2 separate regions of the Homo sapiens genome follow, and region 2 is linked to region 1. A link means that fine-mapping ties the variant in region 1 to the expression of a gene that starts in the linked region. Tissue or cell type: whole blood. Region 1 holds a variant in brackets; the other region holds the start of a gene. All regions are shown on one strand. Distances are from middle to middle.

Region 1 (8,185 bases):
CAGTGGCAGCAAGATAAAGCCAGAATTTATAAATAGGTCATTTAAAAATGACATTTTGAAAAATCAGCTTGTAAACAGGTTGTAAGCATGTTAGGCTGCAATACCCTAGACTCTCTTTGCTCTGATTCTGTAGTACTCAACACATTTCTCATTATAATTTAGCTCACCAGAGAGATTTCTCTATTGGGAGAGAGTGCCCTGGCCAGAAAATGGGAGTATTTAATCTTCTTAGTGCTTCATTTATTTTTAGTAAAAATTAAGAAATTGGCCTTTTGGTTTATGCATTGGCCTTTTATGAGCTTGGCTAGTGTGAGTCCATTCTCAAGAGCCTTGAGAACTGAAGACCTGATTCTGGGCCTTGGGGACCCAGCCAAGATGCTGCCTTTAAAAGCTCCTATTTAGATGATGGACCACAAGACCTCTCACTGAGCTCCTTTGCTCAAAGACACTTTCCAGATGGGAAATGGAGCCTCATAAAGGTAGTGTTGCTTTCCTAAGGTCCTCACAACTGCTCAATAGTGACAAAGCTGAGATTGGAGTCAAAGTCTTCTGACTCTCACATCAGTGCTCTTTCCAATACACTGTATGTTGTTTCAGCTACAGGCACAAATTAGATCTTGGAGAGAAAGGGAGGAAATAAAAGTTGAGAGCAAGATTTGCTCCCTTAAGTTTGGTCCATATCAAATAGGAACAGCTATTATTTAAAACCAGGCAGAGTAGAAATGCCATCCACTATATTCTAGTAAGTGGAATACCAGTGGGTAATGAATCCAATTTCTGAGCTAAGAGCATTATTTGTTGCTGACTTTGTGACTGCTTTTAGTAGGAGCTATGTGCACACATCCCAGATCACGTTCACAGGGCCAGGAGCGGTACCACCCAGTGAAATATGACTAAGCAGCTCAGATTTGCTTGCTCTGTTGCACTATGTAATGACATTTCCACCAAAGTTCAGGGGTTAACAGAGGCAGTGTGCTCAGCTGTGAGAATTAAAGAATGTGATTCAAGATGAGCTAAGTTAATTTAAGATTTTGTTCAATAAGAGCAATAAGAACAAGGAAGAGCTGGAATGTTCCTAAATATTTGGAATCTTTTTTAAAAAACAGGCTTGAAATATAAGCTATATGTCCTTGTGGTCCCAATGTATCACTTGCTTTTCAGTTGATTAGACTTTTAACTCTTGAGTAATGGAACCTATTATAATCACCCCCAACCTTAAATTACCTTTAAATAGCAGTTGATTGGGTGTTACTGAAACCACATGACATTAAAGATGACCAGTTCTGAACCAGGGTAGGGTATGCCTTCTTTTCTTAACTAAGATGTGGCTAGACTGCTGTGACTGGTTAACTCAGGTGGTTAGAGCATGATGTCAAGAAAATCAGGAGGCTAGGTGTCATTGCACGTGGCACAGATGTTTTAGCTTGGTTCTGTAATCACGAGCTGGACCCCTACCAGACCAGGACCTCACAAATATGGATCGTGGCTCACGAGGCAGACCTGGTTCAACAAATAGGAGGAGCTTAGTGTAGCTTTTCCCCTCTTTTGGCAAATGTGGCCAAGTGCCTCCTAGGTGAAGGCTGACCCTTGAAATGGGAAGGACAGCACAGGAATTAGGCAAGGCCCCTGTGGAGACAGTCTTGTAATATGGAAAATTTTCTCTTTGCTACAATTAGTTGAATTAATCATTTTAGAGGCTATAACAAACTCGATGCAGATGATACAGATGCTACTTGTATTGACAGAAGCAAAGGATTTCTTTTCGCATACAGACTCATGGATTGCTTTTTCATTTTTTCTCTATGTCTCATGGAAACATAAGGTGTACATGCAGGGCTACAATGCCCCTCAGAGCATTTTCTTGTGTATCTTTATTGGCTCCATCATTTTCCTGCCCTGTGACTTAACTACTCTGAGTCTTAGTTTACTCATCCGTGGAATGGGGAAAATAATTGTACTGACATCATGGGCTTGCTGGGAGAATCAAATGCAAATAAAAAAATATATTTGTATCTTAGTCTGTTCAGACCACCAGAACAAAAAGCCATAAACCAGGTAGCTTATAAACAATGGAAGTGTATTTCTCATAGTTCTGGAGGCCAGAAATCCAAGATCAAGACATATTTAGTATCCTGGTGAGGGCCTACTTCCCTATTCATAGATAGTACCTTCTCTCTATGTCCTTACATGGTGGAAGGGACAAGGTAGCTCTCTGGGGCCTCTTGGATAAAGTCAACAATCCCAGTCATGAGAGCTATGCCCTCATGATCTAATCACCTCTAAATGCCACCACCTCCAAATACCATTATACTGGTGATTAGGTTTCAACATATGAATTTGGGAAGGGCACAAACATTCAGATCATAGCAATATGTATGTGATGTCCAAGCGTGGTGCCAGGAACATAGCAGGAGCTCAGTAAATCAGTAAACAGTAGCTATAAGATAAGTGAGGGAATGGAACAGGGAGTTGGGAAAGTTTATTCTCATATGCTTCCTGGCTTTTTGCAGTTTAGGGAAAGTGTCATAAAATAGCATACATGTTGAAACTGAGAACTACTCCAAAAGGTTCTATTTGTAATGCTATAGAAATATTAACTTCTTGCAGTTTACATTGGCAGATCCCCAATAATTCACAATTAACACCTGGTGTTTAGTGGTTTGCAAATAGGTTTTGCTGTCATTGGGGATATCTAGAATAAAAAGCTGTAGGGAAACATTTAAAAATTAAATGTCTGGGCTGGGCGCGGTGGCTCACGCCTGTAATCCCAGCACTTTAGCAGGCTGAGGTAGGTGGCTCACTTGAGGTCAGGAGTTTGAGACCAGCCTGGCCAACATGATGAAACCCCATTTCTACTAAAAATACAAAAACAAAAACAAAAACAAACAAACAAACAAACAAAAATTAGCCGGGCATGGTGGCAGGTCCCTGTAATCCCAGCTACTCGAGAGGCTGAGGCAGGAGAATTGCTTGAAACTGGGAGGCGGAGGTTGCAGTGAGCTGAGATCATGCCACTGCACTCCAGCCTGGGGGATACAGTGAGACTCTGCCTCAAAAAAAAAAAAAAAAGTTTGATTTCATCTACTGATGTAGGAATGCAACTTAGGTTGGCTATATGTAAATACTTAAAATATCTTTAATAAAGTTTAATCCCTGTCTGTCCTATTGGTTAGAGTAAATGTTTTTATTGTTGTTAGATTTGAACATTGCATCATCTGATTGCAGGAATGATACCTTGACACCATCTAGCCGTAGTCTAAGAAGTAATACTTTTTTCTTGTCTGAGTCACAGTAGTGGTAAGATGAATGGAGGGAGGGAATCCTGCTGTTCATCTGACCTTCACGGATCTAACTGGAACTAACTGGCTTTTTGTGCACCAAAATAGGTATAAAGAAAGTTCAGCTAATCTGGGACTCAGTCACAAACCAGAGACACTGAACAGACTAGTGAGGCTTGCACAGGGTACTAGAAGATGAGTATCATCATGACTTTGCCATGATTTGACTTTGACTTTGAAAAATTTCATTGAAAATGACTTTGGAAAATTACATACAGCATAAATGTGCAAATTTACATTACCTTTTTAACAAGTTCCAGTGCTTTGCAGACAGAAAAGGGAATTGGTTCTCTATTTTGGATGTATAAATGAGTGGGATTAGTCCTAGAAAAAGTGGTCTGTACTTTAATCTACCTTTCCTTGTTCTTCTCACACCCTCTCTACATTGGGGAATTCTCCTTTGCTTTCTCCTATTTGGGGACCAGAGCCCTTAGTCTTTCTCCACATCAACATCTCTAAACTTGGTCTCACACTGCT[C/T]ATTTCCACTAAGACATAAATAACTGATAGTGGCTGAAAATGTTGTGATCCCTCCAGATAATATTTCCATTTTCATAGGGGAGCTCTCTGAAGTGCATGGAAGAAAGATCTAGGGTGGAATTTTCAATATCATTCAATTTAGGACTTAGAAGGTATAGTGTGGTGAAGGGTGTTTGTGGTTGTATCTGATTCTCCAGCTACTCTGAAATAATAATGCTTAGGCGTTGCTTTCTCTAGCAGTTCCCAGAGGCTTCTTCCAACTCCTTCCTCTGTAGTTTCTAGTGCCTCAGAATAGGCTTGCAGCAAGAACAGTGTCCATGGATAAACTTGAGTATATTGGGGTTTTCTCAAAAGAGAACCGAGTACAGTTCAGGAAACTTCCCTCAAGCAGATGCAATGACTCTTCTTGATGCACATTTCATTTTCTGATTAGTTTATTTATTTTCAAAATCAGTCAAGTACTTGTACAAGTGAATAATACCAGTGTTGCCATGTATAGGCATTTAATAACCCTGGATAAGGAACAACTAAAACCAGAGGGAGAGGTTTTTTATCACAACTTTTGCTCTCATGCCTTATTCTGCTAATATTTAACTTCTGCTTATTATTTTAGATCTACTCATCTCTACCACACCCACCCAAAACATGTATCCACATGCACACACACATGCACACTCCCATTAGGACTGATGGGCTAAAAACAAGTGATTTTTTTTGCTTTGCTACTATTTTGGCATACATGTCATTAACATTTTCCCAGTTGATCAGTTCTAAGGGAGACTCAATAAGTCTGAAATCCCCGGAGATACTAGACACTCTCTCTAGTCTATTGCCTCTTGTTCACCCAGGCTTTGACAAACTAAAACAAAACTCTTGTCAATGTATTTCTGGAAAAGTTTGAATTTTATATTGTAGCATTCAGAAATATATTTGGAATGTGTTGTTGTTTAACTCTTTAGTAATATTAGCATTACTCTTTTACCAGAAATATATTAATGTCTCATTTTTAGATGCATCTGGGCTTTTTGGTCATTTTAACTTTGAATGCAAAATATTCATTGATTAAATGAATAAAGCAGTGAATCCTAGAATAGGCAGACTTGTGTAGGTTTGCATTTGCATGTATCTTTATTGACCCCCCAAAACGTGAAAAATTGATATTATATATTTTCACTCTAAAAACAGATTATAGGTTTTCAAGAACATGTACAAAAAAGATAGAAATTTGTCTTGATATGGTTCCCAGAAAATATGCAGCTTAAAAATGGAACAAATGGCTCTACCTAATGGGAAGACAGACCCTTTAAAATCCTATGCCCATTACCAATCATGTCCCATATGAAAAGGTACATTTTATTTCCATCACCACATTTGGGGAAAAAATGATGCAATCTGTTTTCTTTAAGAGACTTCTAGACATCCTGGAACAAAATGTTTTTAGAAGGGGCATTTCCATCCAGAAGGTGGGCATCTGGTTACCTTCAGATATGCATACTTACATTGTTGGCTGGCAAATTAATAGATTGTACCTGTGCATGAGAACACTTCTAATTTCAAATATACATATTTGAGACTCAATATATTTTAACACACTGACTACATTTCAAAGGTAACAGGTAAATTGTATTGAAAACAACATCTGATTGGTATCTTCACTGGGGACAATAGCATATCAGATTGACAGTTGACTGGTAAAGTGAAATGTATTTCCTTAATGTGTTTTTTGCCAAGAGTTGAGTAGTATTAGACAGGCCAGAGGTCATATTTGGGAAAGTCATCTAAAGCCAGGAAGAGCCCATAGGCCCAGGCAGGCAAATACTTGAATTCATGATGAGCTGAGAGGGGCAAGGTCAAACAGCAGAAACAGAACTGAAGCTGGGAGCAAAAGGCAGACCTGGGCAGAAAGTTTGGGCAACATGGAATTGGGATCCTAGGCAGTTGGGATGCAGCGGGTGGCAGTTGGGAGGAAGGAGAGCAGAGAAAAAGGCACTTTTGACAGTGACTCAACTAGGCACAGCTAATAAACTGTACAGATGCAACCATGTCAAAAAGGCTCCACCTCCTTATTTATGGACTGTCGAGGACATTATGTAGGTGATGGGCATTGATTGTAACCCATGCATATGAGCTTCCTGTAACTGGGCTGAAACTATTGATACATTCAGGCCAGAAGAGTGGGTCTGAGTATGCACTGTTTATTTCCTGGTGGGCGCTGCCTTCTCAGCTTGGCTCTCATTTCCCATTACTGCTTTGCTCTGACTCACTGATGGCCTGCCACATGTCATTAGGCGGCTCAACTGCTGCTCTCATTTCTCCCAAAGGTATATGGAGGTTTGTGTCTTGGCTTCTACACTTTTTTTTTTTTTTTTTTTTTCCGGAGAGCTGGAGGAAGTGGCCTTTTGATAGTTTTGTTTGTTGAGTTGAATACTTGTAGTGTCTTACGGTTTCAATTTTCCTTTCTCATAGATATTTGATCCTGATGACCTTTATTCAGGGGTCAATTTCTCCAAGGTACTGAGTACTCTTTTAGCTGTCAACAAAGCAACAGAAGGTAAGCCGGGCTTGTGATTTATATGTTCTGGGTGACATTTTTGAATCCATGTGTTTGTGATTACCCTAGGAGCCAACTCTGGCCAGGATTGTTCTCGTGATGCAAATTTTCCCCTTGCTCCCCCAAATACACCCCAACAAATGTCAAATGCTTGAATTTTTCATGGCTTAGGATTTAAAATATACCTATCATAGATGTTATTCTAATGCCCTTAATATAATGATAAGAACTAAGAAACTATTCCATTCAAAGCTCTGAATCACCAACTGAGTATAACAAAACAGAGAAGAAAAAGGAAAGACCAGTTCCCTTTTTCATAGAGTTTACAAAATACAGCCGTCACTTCCCTTTCCCCACTAGAGACATATTTTTCTCATTGTTTTATGTATGCCTTTGTCCATGTAAAGGAACCCCTCAGTAGCCTTGCACCAAAAATGAAATCTTGGGGTCATAGGGAGTGAAAATAATATCTTTTATTTAAATGTTTAACACCTACCACACTAGAGGTATTAAATATAAATGCTAGTAAATGTGAAGAAAATGATGATACACTTAGAATGTAGCTTCACTCCTTCCCTGGTATATTTTACCAACAGCTGAATAGTAATAATCATACTTAAAATGCTTTGAGCTCTTGCCCTGGATCTAGGCTGTCATAAGAGCCACAGGTGATCTCATCCAATCCTTGAAACAACACTGGGGGTAGGTATTATTATTATTAGGTCCATATTACAGATAAGGAAAGTCAGGCCAACAGTTGCCCAACTAGAAAGTTAGTCGCTGAGTTGGGATTCAGACCCACATCTGAATGACTACAGAGCCCTTATGCCCAAGCACGAGGCTTGCTGCTCAAACTGTTGTAGAGTCAAGAGGCTGTGTGCCCAGCATCGCCAGGTGCTACAAAAAATGTCAAAGCTATGGTCCCTGCCTTTGAGAAAATTACTGTCTATTTAAGGAGACTCAACTTACCCACGTGAAACAATTAGAGGACAAGAGCAGACAATATAATCAAGTGCCAAATAGGTTAGAGCATCTAGGAAGCTATCGAGTAATTATAGTTTTTGTCAAAAGAGCTGTATATAATAGCAATACAAGTAAAAATACTTCTCCAAAGTTGTTCTTTTGCTATTTGGAAAAAAAAATGCTTTTGAGCTATTGCAAGGCGTATAGCTGAAAGTACAGCTAATTCAAGTAACTATATTTAACACACATGACAACTATCCAGTTCTAGTCAGGGAGGATCGTGTAATTCTAACATTATGCCACACAAATTATACGTTCCTTTGCCAAACTCTCCTAGCAAGTTTTACAGTCTCTTCCCTTGCCACAGATATTTATAAAATACAAGGAGGTGAAAGTTAAAACCCACAGCATCAAGGAAATTACTTGGATACTGAGCTTGTCGCCTAGGGAATGTTTGGGCTTTAGACTTTTGCAGTTTATATCTTTTAAAAATAAATGGAGAGGAAAAGAACCCTTATTGAAATTTGTCAAGAAGCCAGCTCCTCTCTTTTGTATACTCTCAACAAACTGAAAACATCCAGCTCAGCTCTGGCCTGGTCGAATTTCACAAGGTTTCAAGGAAGAGAAGACTCTTGAATCTGATTGTTAAAAAAATTATTCTAGTATCAAGATTACATCTTTCCCAAACACATCTTCTCTTTCACTCTCATTCTCCACCCTGCCCCACACACATCAGGGAGATTTTACATCATATATGCCACACATATTGTTACGTGTGAGTAAGAAATGAGCCACTGAGTTATGGGCCAAAAAACAAAGAGAGAAATTTGAAATATTTCAAAGTAATAAGAGCCAC
Region 2 (8,185 bases), 31 kb before region 1:
AAGGTGTATCAGTTGGTGTCCAATCAGAACATAGACACTACATAGTATTTTTTTTTTTTTCTTGAGATGGAGTCTGGCTCTTGTCGCCCAGGCTGGAGTGCAATGGCACGATCTCAGCTCACTGCAAACTCTGACTCCCAGGTTCAAGCGATTCTCCTGCCTCAGCCTCCAGAGTAGCTGGGATTACAGATGCCCGCCACCATGCCTGGCTAATTTTTGTATTTTTATTAGAGACTGGGTTTCACCATGTTGGCCAGACTGGTCTCAAACTCCTGACCTCAGGTGATTTGCCCACCTTGGCCTCCCAAAGTACTGGGATTACAGGTGTGAACCACCGTGCCCAGCCTACTACATAGTAATTTTAACAAGAAGAGTTTAACATAAAGAATTAACAATAACAGGGGATTGGAGTGTTGAAGAATTGGTTAGTAATAAATAAAGGAAACTCTAAAAAGTATGGGATAGCAGATATAAATAGCAGACAATATAAAAATAATATGTAATGGCCGATACCTCTAGAGCTGTGATAACCCTCCTCTCCACCCACGGTCGAGATCCAGGCCTTATTGGAGAAGTTGCTCTGGTGCTGAGTTGGTGGAACTTGTTGGATGTACATTCTCTGGAACTTGCTGAAATATACCCCTCTACGGTGCTGGTTCACATGGAAGGTGTCTGTCTCATCAGAGATTCTTTGCTGCCTAAACACTCAAGGGTAGTGCCTGGGGAGGTTGCTACCTACTGTTTGTTGGGAAAACCAGTGCTGCAGAAGGTGGGCAATAGGAAAGCTGGGAGCTCAGCAGGAGCTTGTGGAGTGAGCGCACAGAAAACAGGAAGTAAAACCCCTTCTTCCTGCAATGTCTCTCCACCACTGCCTACTGATAAAACTTTGTATCATGCCAGCTGGCAAAGTCAGAAATATTTCAAGGTCCCAGGTCCATTTCACAGAATAGGCATAAAGGGGAAATGAGAGGTAATAAATTGATTACAGGTTGAGAAGTTCAAGGAACTGAGAGGTCTTGATGTTGGATTGTTGTTCTTGTGGATATTGAAATGACCCAAGTGTTGGCAGAAATTAGAGTGGTGTAGAAGGTTAGAGACCAATAAACTCATTTCTCTAAGTGTGACCTTGGTCTATCTGCATCAGAATCAAGTGGGATACTTTGATAACACAAATTCCTTTTTCCCACTGCAGATCTTCTGAACTGGAGTATCTGGGAAGAGAGCTCCCAAATATTCTTTTTTAGTAAGTGCCTTAGTAGATTTGAAATGAAAGAGAATCGGTTAGTAACATTTTAAACACACAAAACTAAATAGTAAAACAGGTACCAGTGTACCCAGCATTCAGTCTTAACAAATGTTCACATTTGCCTTATTTCCTGAAGATCTTTTGATTTTTCATGAAATGTTACCTATTTTAGCTTAAGTTCCACTCTCACCTTCCTTTCTCCTTTATGCCTCACAGGAGATGATCATATGAACATTGTTTTTTGTCAATTCCTGCTTTAGGCAATAGAGAGCCTTTGAGGGTTTTTGAACAGGGGTATTAACACTAGAGGTGTTTTTGGAAAATCAACCCAAATGTGCCCTGTTAGAGAGTTCATTAGGATGAGAGGATGGAGGTGGAAAGCCCTTGAAGAGGCAGGTTCAGTGGCCCAGAGGGTGTGGTACTGAGGATCTGAGGTAGGGTGAGAGATCTTTGCTTTTTTTTCTCATGCTCTTGTGTGAAGCCTGCTCTTTGTGTTGCTGTGACCCCCAGTCTTTGAATTCCCCCTCTTCCCCTATTCCCTCAGTTCATCAGCTCCTTTCTAGCTTCATTTGAGTCCCTAACCAGCCTGGGTTTCATGGGTACCCATTTCACCTATATGCTTGCCACTGCCCTGGAATTCCTTGCTTTGTTGACATTTTACCACACCAACTGTAACTTCCAATCTTTATACAAATAGAACTGGTTCTTTTGCCTTGAGGCAGTGGCCTTGCCATTCTGATATACTTTATTACTCATAGTAATATTTGCTATAGTGAGTGTCCAAAATGAGGCAGAGTTTTATCCAGATGACCTTGGTGAACTCAAGACTGTTTTGGAGGAGGCTGGGTTCACAAAACTTACTCAGGCTTTGTTCTTCATCAGAAGATGTAAGTGATACCTCAATAATACTGCCAGATTTTGTTTGTCTGTAGAGTAAAATTTTGATGAGCAGTTGTGAAAACTGTTCAGATGACATATAAAAATGTGTTTAAGTTCGTCAGATTTGGGAATTTTATTTATCAACAAATGTATTCTGTTTTTATTTCCATTACATAGATTTGGCCATGGGTCAACGTCAATGAAAACTTTTGATTGATTATACTTATTTTGCTTAAGTCACAAGTACATCAAGCAAACCTTGTTATAGAACTATGGACAGACACAATAACATGAATGAGTATGAAAATGATGATGTTGAGTTAAGAAGCCAGAAAAAAGATAGTACCATACTGTGTACTTCCATTTATATAAGATTCTTGAAAATGCAAACTAATCTATAGACACTGAAAATAGATTGGTGGTTGCCTGGCATTTGGAGGCAAAGAGGAAAGAAAGAATTGAAAGGGCACGAGGACAATTTTGGGGGTGATGGAAAGGCTTATCTGGATTGCATTTGTGTGATTGTATCAAAGATGTATGTATATGTCAAAATTCATTAAATCATATATATGCAGTTCCTTATGTGTCAATTACAGCTTAATAAAATGGTAAAAATCATTAACAAGAAAAAATGTTTGTTTTAAGCCATTTAAACCAACCAACAAACAAAAAATCCTTGCTATAATCAGTTACTGTCTATATCAGGGACACCATCTGAATACATTCATTTATTCATTCAGCATTTTTTAACATCTACTGTGTATACCTGGCAGTCTGCTGGTAACACAGTGTTAAATAAAAAAAAACAAGACCCCGAGTTTAGGAAGTTTACATTCTTGTGGAGGAGTCAGATCATCAGATCAACAAGTGATAATAGTAAAGTGTGACAAGTGTCCTGACAGAGCAAGAAAGGGCAGCTTTGAAAATGTTTAGTAGGGTTATCTAAGCTGATTCTTTGGTAGTAGATGCCTGAAGCTGTGTTGAAAAGAATTCTGAGGCTTAGTAGGAAAGAGCTATACATGATCTGATGTCTCCCATGCACGAGGAGAGGTAATCATGGTAAGTGCCACACATTTGCCAACATAGGGTTATACTATTAAAGTTGGCCTTATCATAAATTTCCCAATAGTATGCCTATTTCAAGTGGTTCTGAAAATGTTTGAGAATGATGAAGATCTCTTGTTATAGACAGTTTTTTTTTCAGAGCAGTATTTTAAGTGCAAAGTGTTTTTTTGTTGTTGTTGTTGTTGGGAAAATAAGAATCTTCCATATTGTAGTGTAGACAGAGGACAAGTGCTCTTTTGTTCTCAAACATTCTATTTTTTCAAGTGTATTTTACCCACTTATGTGACTGAGTCTGAGCCTTTGCTAAGGGTACTGCAGCTGGATTATGTAGTGGAACCAGGTCCAGAAAAAGAATTGCTAAAGAATGCAAGTAAACAGGATGTCAGATGTTATCCTTAGCCTATTTCCCTAAACATAGCTTTTTGGCTGCAAAGTAAAATGCCATTCTTCTAGCTTCTGCTTATACACAGTGATGGCTGACAGCAGGCATAATCTTCGTTTGCTTGGCACGTTGTCACCATGCAACTCAACGTGTTTTGCAAGGAATGATCGTGACACACCATCTCTGGGAGATACTATGAGGACATCCGGCTATTTCTTGGAAGAATTTTCTGTCTACCTTCTTTGAGCCCTGTTGTGCCAGCACATCTCCCCATGAGGCTCAGATCTGTCTGACCTAAGAGCCAGTTGGCATCGTCCTCCTAACAGAAGCCAGATTTTCACTGGGGCTAGACTATTTATTGACAGTGTTTTCCCAGACTGGCCCATGAGTGTCTCATTTCCAAGGTCCCCTGAAGTGCTGGCTCACCTCTGTTTCCCAAAGCACTTGCTTGCTTGTCTCTCCTCCCTCCCCAGCATCCTTTTCACTTTCTTCCCTTATAACTTCTTGCACTCTGTGTGCGTGTGTGTGTATGCGTGTGTGCATGTGCGTTTCTTCTTTTTTTTTATCCTAACGAATTTGTTTTGCAGGTTTTGAAAAGGAAAAACCAGCGTTATCCAGGATTGTTAAATTAATTCTTATCTGTTTCCACATCTTGGACCGTGATCTCTGTGGTTTTAAAATCCCATATTTTGAGTGGGTTCCGCTGTTGTTTAAGAAAAGTTGCTTTAAACCTTTGCTCTGCAAGCACCCGAAGAGAACTCATAAAAAGGAAGACAACAGCAGATGCAATCGCGGATGTGGCTTAGTCCTTGCAGCTGCCCCAGAGTGCTGTTTGGAGTGTACCGTCCTCAGTAATGAATCCAGAAGAACAAATCGTGACATGGCTTATATCTTTGGGAGTTTTAGAGTCCCCTAAAAAGACCATCTGTGATCCGGAGGAGTTTTTAAAGTCCTCGCTGAAAAATGGGGTAGTTCTGTGCAAACTGATCAACAGACTCATGCCTGGCTCTGTGGAAAAGGTAAGGGAAATTTGCAGTCTCTTTGGGATTGCTTATCACCAGAGAGCAGCAATCATGTAACTCTTGAGATTTTTCTATTTCCCAGGCCATGGGAATCTCCTACTTTAATATTTTTCTAAGAGTTAGACATTCTTTCTTACTGTTTTTGTAGTTTGAAAATGTAAGAAAATGAAACGTTATTCTTTAGTAATTGGCCCCCAAATTGTAGTATAGGGAAAACCTGTGACACCACTGGCAACAAGGGACAAGGAGAACACTCATATCACAAGCTTGCTCTATCATGGAGATGCATGTTACATCTCCTTGTGTACCGAGGACATGTTTTGAACTTGGGGTACTTATGAGTCTGTGGAAAAATAGAATGATTTATAACAGATCTTGGTGGTGTTTATTGGCAGTTTGATTAAAATCAGTGTAGATTTCCTTTTAGAAAAATCCATTGAAGGAGAGACTATATAGCAACTAGGAAAAAAATAATTCAAAATGTCACATAAAGTTTGTAAAAGCAATAGAAACCAGATATATGTTTCGAATGCAATGTGCGTTCAAAGTGAAACTAACTTTACTCTCTTTAAAACAATTCAAGATTTTTAATAGCTGGAAATCCACGATCACGAGAATAGATAATTTCTAAAGTAGGCACTTTAAGTAAGCTTAAAGGTACAATTTTACATTTACTTTCTTAAGGTCATCATGGACTGTGAGCATAGCACTTTTGCCTTCATGAGCCAGTTTGTATTTTTATTGAGCAAATAAATTTACTTATAATTTCTTAAACTTGAGAAAGAGTGATTAAATAGTGATAAAATGTAAAGAAGTGTGGTCAAATGTAGAGGGGAAATAGAATTTTATTAAATTATCAGGGGGAAGGAGGAGAGAGAGGTACCAGGGATTGCTTCCTTTCTTGAAAGCAAGAACTAAGCTCAAAAAACTGTCTTGGTCTCCCTAATTTGCCATCAGCACACTGGAACAGAAGGCATGAGAGAAAGCTTGTAAGTAGACATGGCTTGCCACTAAAGGTTTGGTGACATTTGAAACAAAGATCGACCGTTTAGATTTTTGCATCACTTCCTTCAGTGGTTATTTCTCTTCCTGGATTGACAGCAGTGTTGCCCCACACCTTAAGAGGCCTGCTTTCTCTAGTTATCAGCAAATGATGAGTATACTTTGCTTGGCATGGGATGACAATCTCCAAGTGACATTTCACTGTGTTCCTCTAGTTTTGTCTGGATCCCCAAACTGAAGCTGACTGCATCAACAACATCAATGACTTCCTGAAAGGATGTGCAACCCTCCAAGTGGAAGTAAGCCTACCCCGGGTGCCTTCCCTGTTGTCATCGTTTTTTTGCTCTGCTAATCAAGATTGGTAGTAAGAGTACTTGTTTATTTTCACTGTCATTGGCCACTGAGTTAAACAGAGGTAGCAGACTGGTGGTCCCCAGTAATGGATTGCTAGTCTGTCTTTTCCAGAAACCAGTTCCAAGCAAAACAAAACAAAATAAAAACTCACACAATAATGCCTTTTATATACAGCATCCAAGCCCTGTAAACAGGCTTCCAGTGACAGAGCTTGTGTGGGTGTGTTCTCCTACTAAGGGGAACCAAAAGTGGGCCACTGACTGTTGGAGAGGGTCACTGTAATCCTCCCAAGTTGAGAAAAGAGGAAAGGCCATTGTTACTCCTTCCCATTAACACTTTAGAACAGAGGCCTTGAAAAGCTGAGAGAACTTGGCTTTGAGGTAGAAATTGTATAGTAAATTTTGTGGCATTATTTTATATTATATGGATCCCTACAGTGTGTATAGGAAGTGTTACTGAAAGGGAGGTGATACTTCCACACGAGCATCAAGTTGCTTAACTTCTCTGTGCTTCAGTATTTTTATCTGTAAAACGGACATGCTAATAGCCAACTCATGGGATTGCTTTAAGAATCAAATAAGGCCGGGCATGATGGCTCATGCCTTTAATCCTAGGCCAAGGCAGAAGGATTGCTATAGCCCAGGAGTTCGAGACCAGCCTGGACAGTATGGTGAAATGGTGACTCTACAAAAAATACAAAAATTAGGCAGGCGTGGTGGCTTGTGCCTGTAGTCCCAGCTACTCGGGAGGCTGAGGTGGGAGGATCGCTTGAACCCAAGAGGTGGTGGAGGTTGCAGTGAGCTGTGATTGCACCACTGCACTCCAGCCTGAATGACAGAAAGAGACCTTGTCTCGAAAAAAAAAAAAAGAATCAAATAAGATACTGCATAATAATTTAGGGCCAAGAGCTCCAACCTTGTAAGATCTATGAGATAATTTATGTAGAGTCCTTAGCATAGGGCCTGGGACAGAAGAAGTACTCTATATTAATAGACTAGTATTAGTCATATTATCCGTGGACAAATAGTTGTGGTTTAAGCATGGACTGTGGTGCTAAACTTTTTGGGTTCAAATCTCAGTTCTCTCTTACTAGCAGCTTTGTGACCTTGGGCATGTTACTTAACTATGACTCTAGGCCTCAGTCTTCCTACCTACAAAATGGGAATAATAGTGGCACCGAATTCATAGGACTCGTGTGACCTTTTTAAAAAATATTATTTCAATAGTTTGGGAGGAACAGGTAGGTGGTGTTTGGTTACATGGATAAGTTATTCAGTGGTGATTTCTGAGATTTTGGTGCATCCATCACTTGAGCAGTGTACACTGTACCCAATGTAGAGTCTTTTATCCCTCACCCTACTCCCACCCTTCCCCCTGAGTCCCCAGAGCCCATTACATCATTCCTATGCCTTTGCATCCTCATAGCTTAGCTCCCCCTTATAAGTGAGAACATATGATGTTTGGTTTTCCATTCCTGAGTTACTTCCCTTAGAATAATGGTCTCCACCTCCACCCAGGTTGTCGTGAATGCCATTATTTTGTTCCTTCTTATGGCTGAGTAGTATTCCATGGTGTGTGTGTGTGTGTGTGTGTGTGTATGTATACATATTATATATATGTATATTACATTTTCTTTATCCACTCTTTGGCTGATGGGCATTTAGGCTGGGTCCATAACTTTGCAATTGCAAATTGTGCTACTATAAATATGTGTGTGCAAGTGTCCTTTTCATATAGTGACTTCTTTTCCTCTGGGTAGATACTCAGTAGTAGGATTACTGGATCAAATGGTAGTTCTACTTTTACTTCTTTAAGGAATCTCCATACTTAAGGTTTTCCATAGTGGTTGTACTAGTTTACATTCCCACCAGCAGTGTAGAAGTGTTTCCTTTTCACCACATTCATGCCAACATCTAATATTTTTTGTTTTTTTTTTAATTGTGGCCATTTCTGCAGGAGTGAGGTGATATCTCATTGTGGTTTGATTTGCATTTCCAGTGCTTAGTGATGTTGAGCATTTTTTCATATGTTTCTTGGCCATTTGTATATGTTCTTTGAGAATTGTCTATTCATGTCCTTAGCCCACTTTTTGATGGGATTATTTGTTTTTTGTTTTTGTTTTGTTTTGTTTTTTGAGACTGAGTCTCACTCTGTTGCCCAAGCTGGAATGCAGTGGTGTGATCTTGGCTCACTGCAACCTCTACCTCCCTGGTTCCAGCGATTCTCCTGCCTCAG

The links. PIP is the estimated chance that this variant, and not a neighbour inherited with it, causes the effect.
Region 2: ARHGEF6 starts here. The variant in region 1 is fine-mapped to the expression of ARHGEF6 in whole blood (TOPMed, PIP above 0.99). The same link has a PIP of 0.9 or more in blood mononuclear cells.

What each region holds. Positions count from the first base shown.
Region 1 is chrX:136,745,689-136,753,873 of GRCh38, reverse strand. ARHGEF6 (Rac/Cdc42 guanine nucleotide exchange factor 6) reads left to right here. Exons shown (of 22, transcript NM_004840.3): 3 at 6,282-6,366. Among named protein-coding and RNA genes, the nearest start is that of ARHGEF6, 31 kb to the left of the region's middle. The variant C/T (reference allele first, on the strand shown) is at 3,816.
Region 2 is chrX:136,777,124-136,785,308 of GRCh38, reverse strand. It overlaps ARHGEF6 (Rac/Cdc42 guanine nucleotide exchange factor 6), which reads left to right and starts at 4,377. Exons shown (of 22, transcript NM_004840.3): 1 at 4,377-4,591; 2 at 5,812-5,895. The coding sequence starts at 4,427. RefSeq lists an enhancer at 5,722-5,941.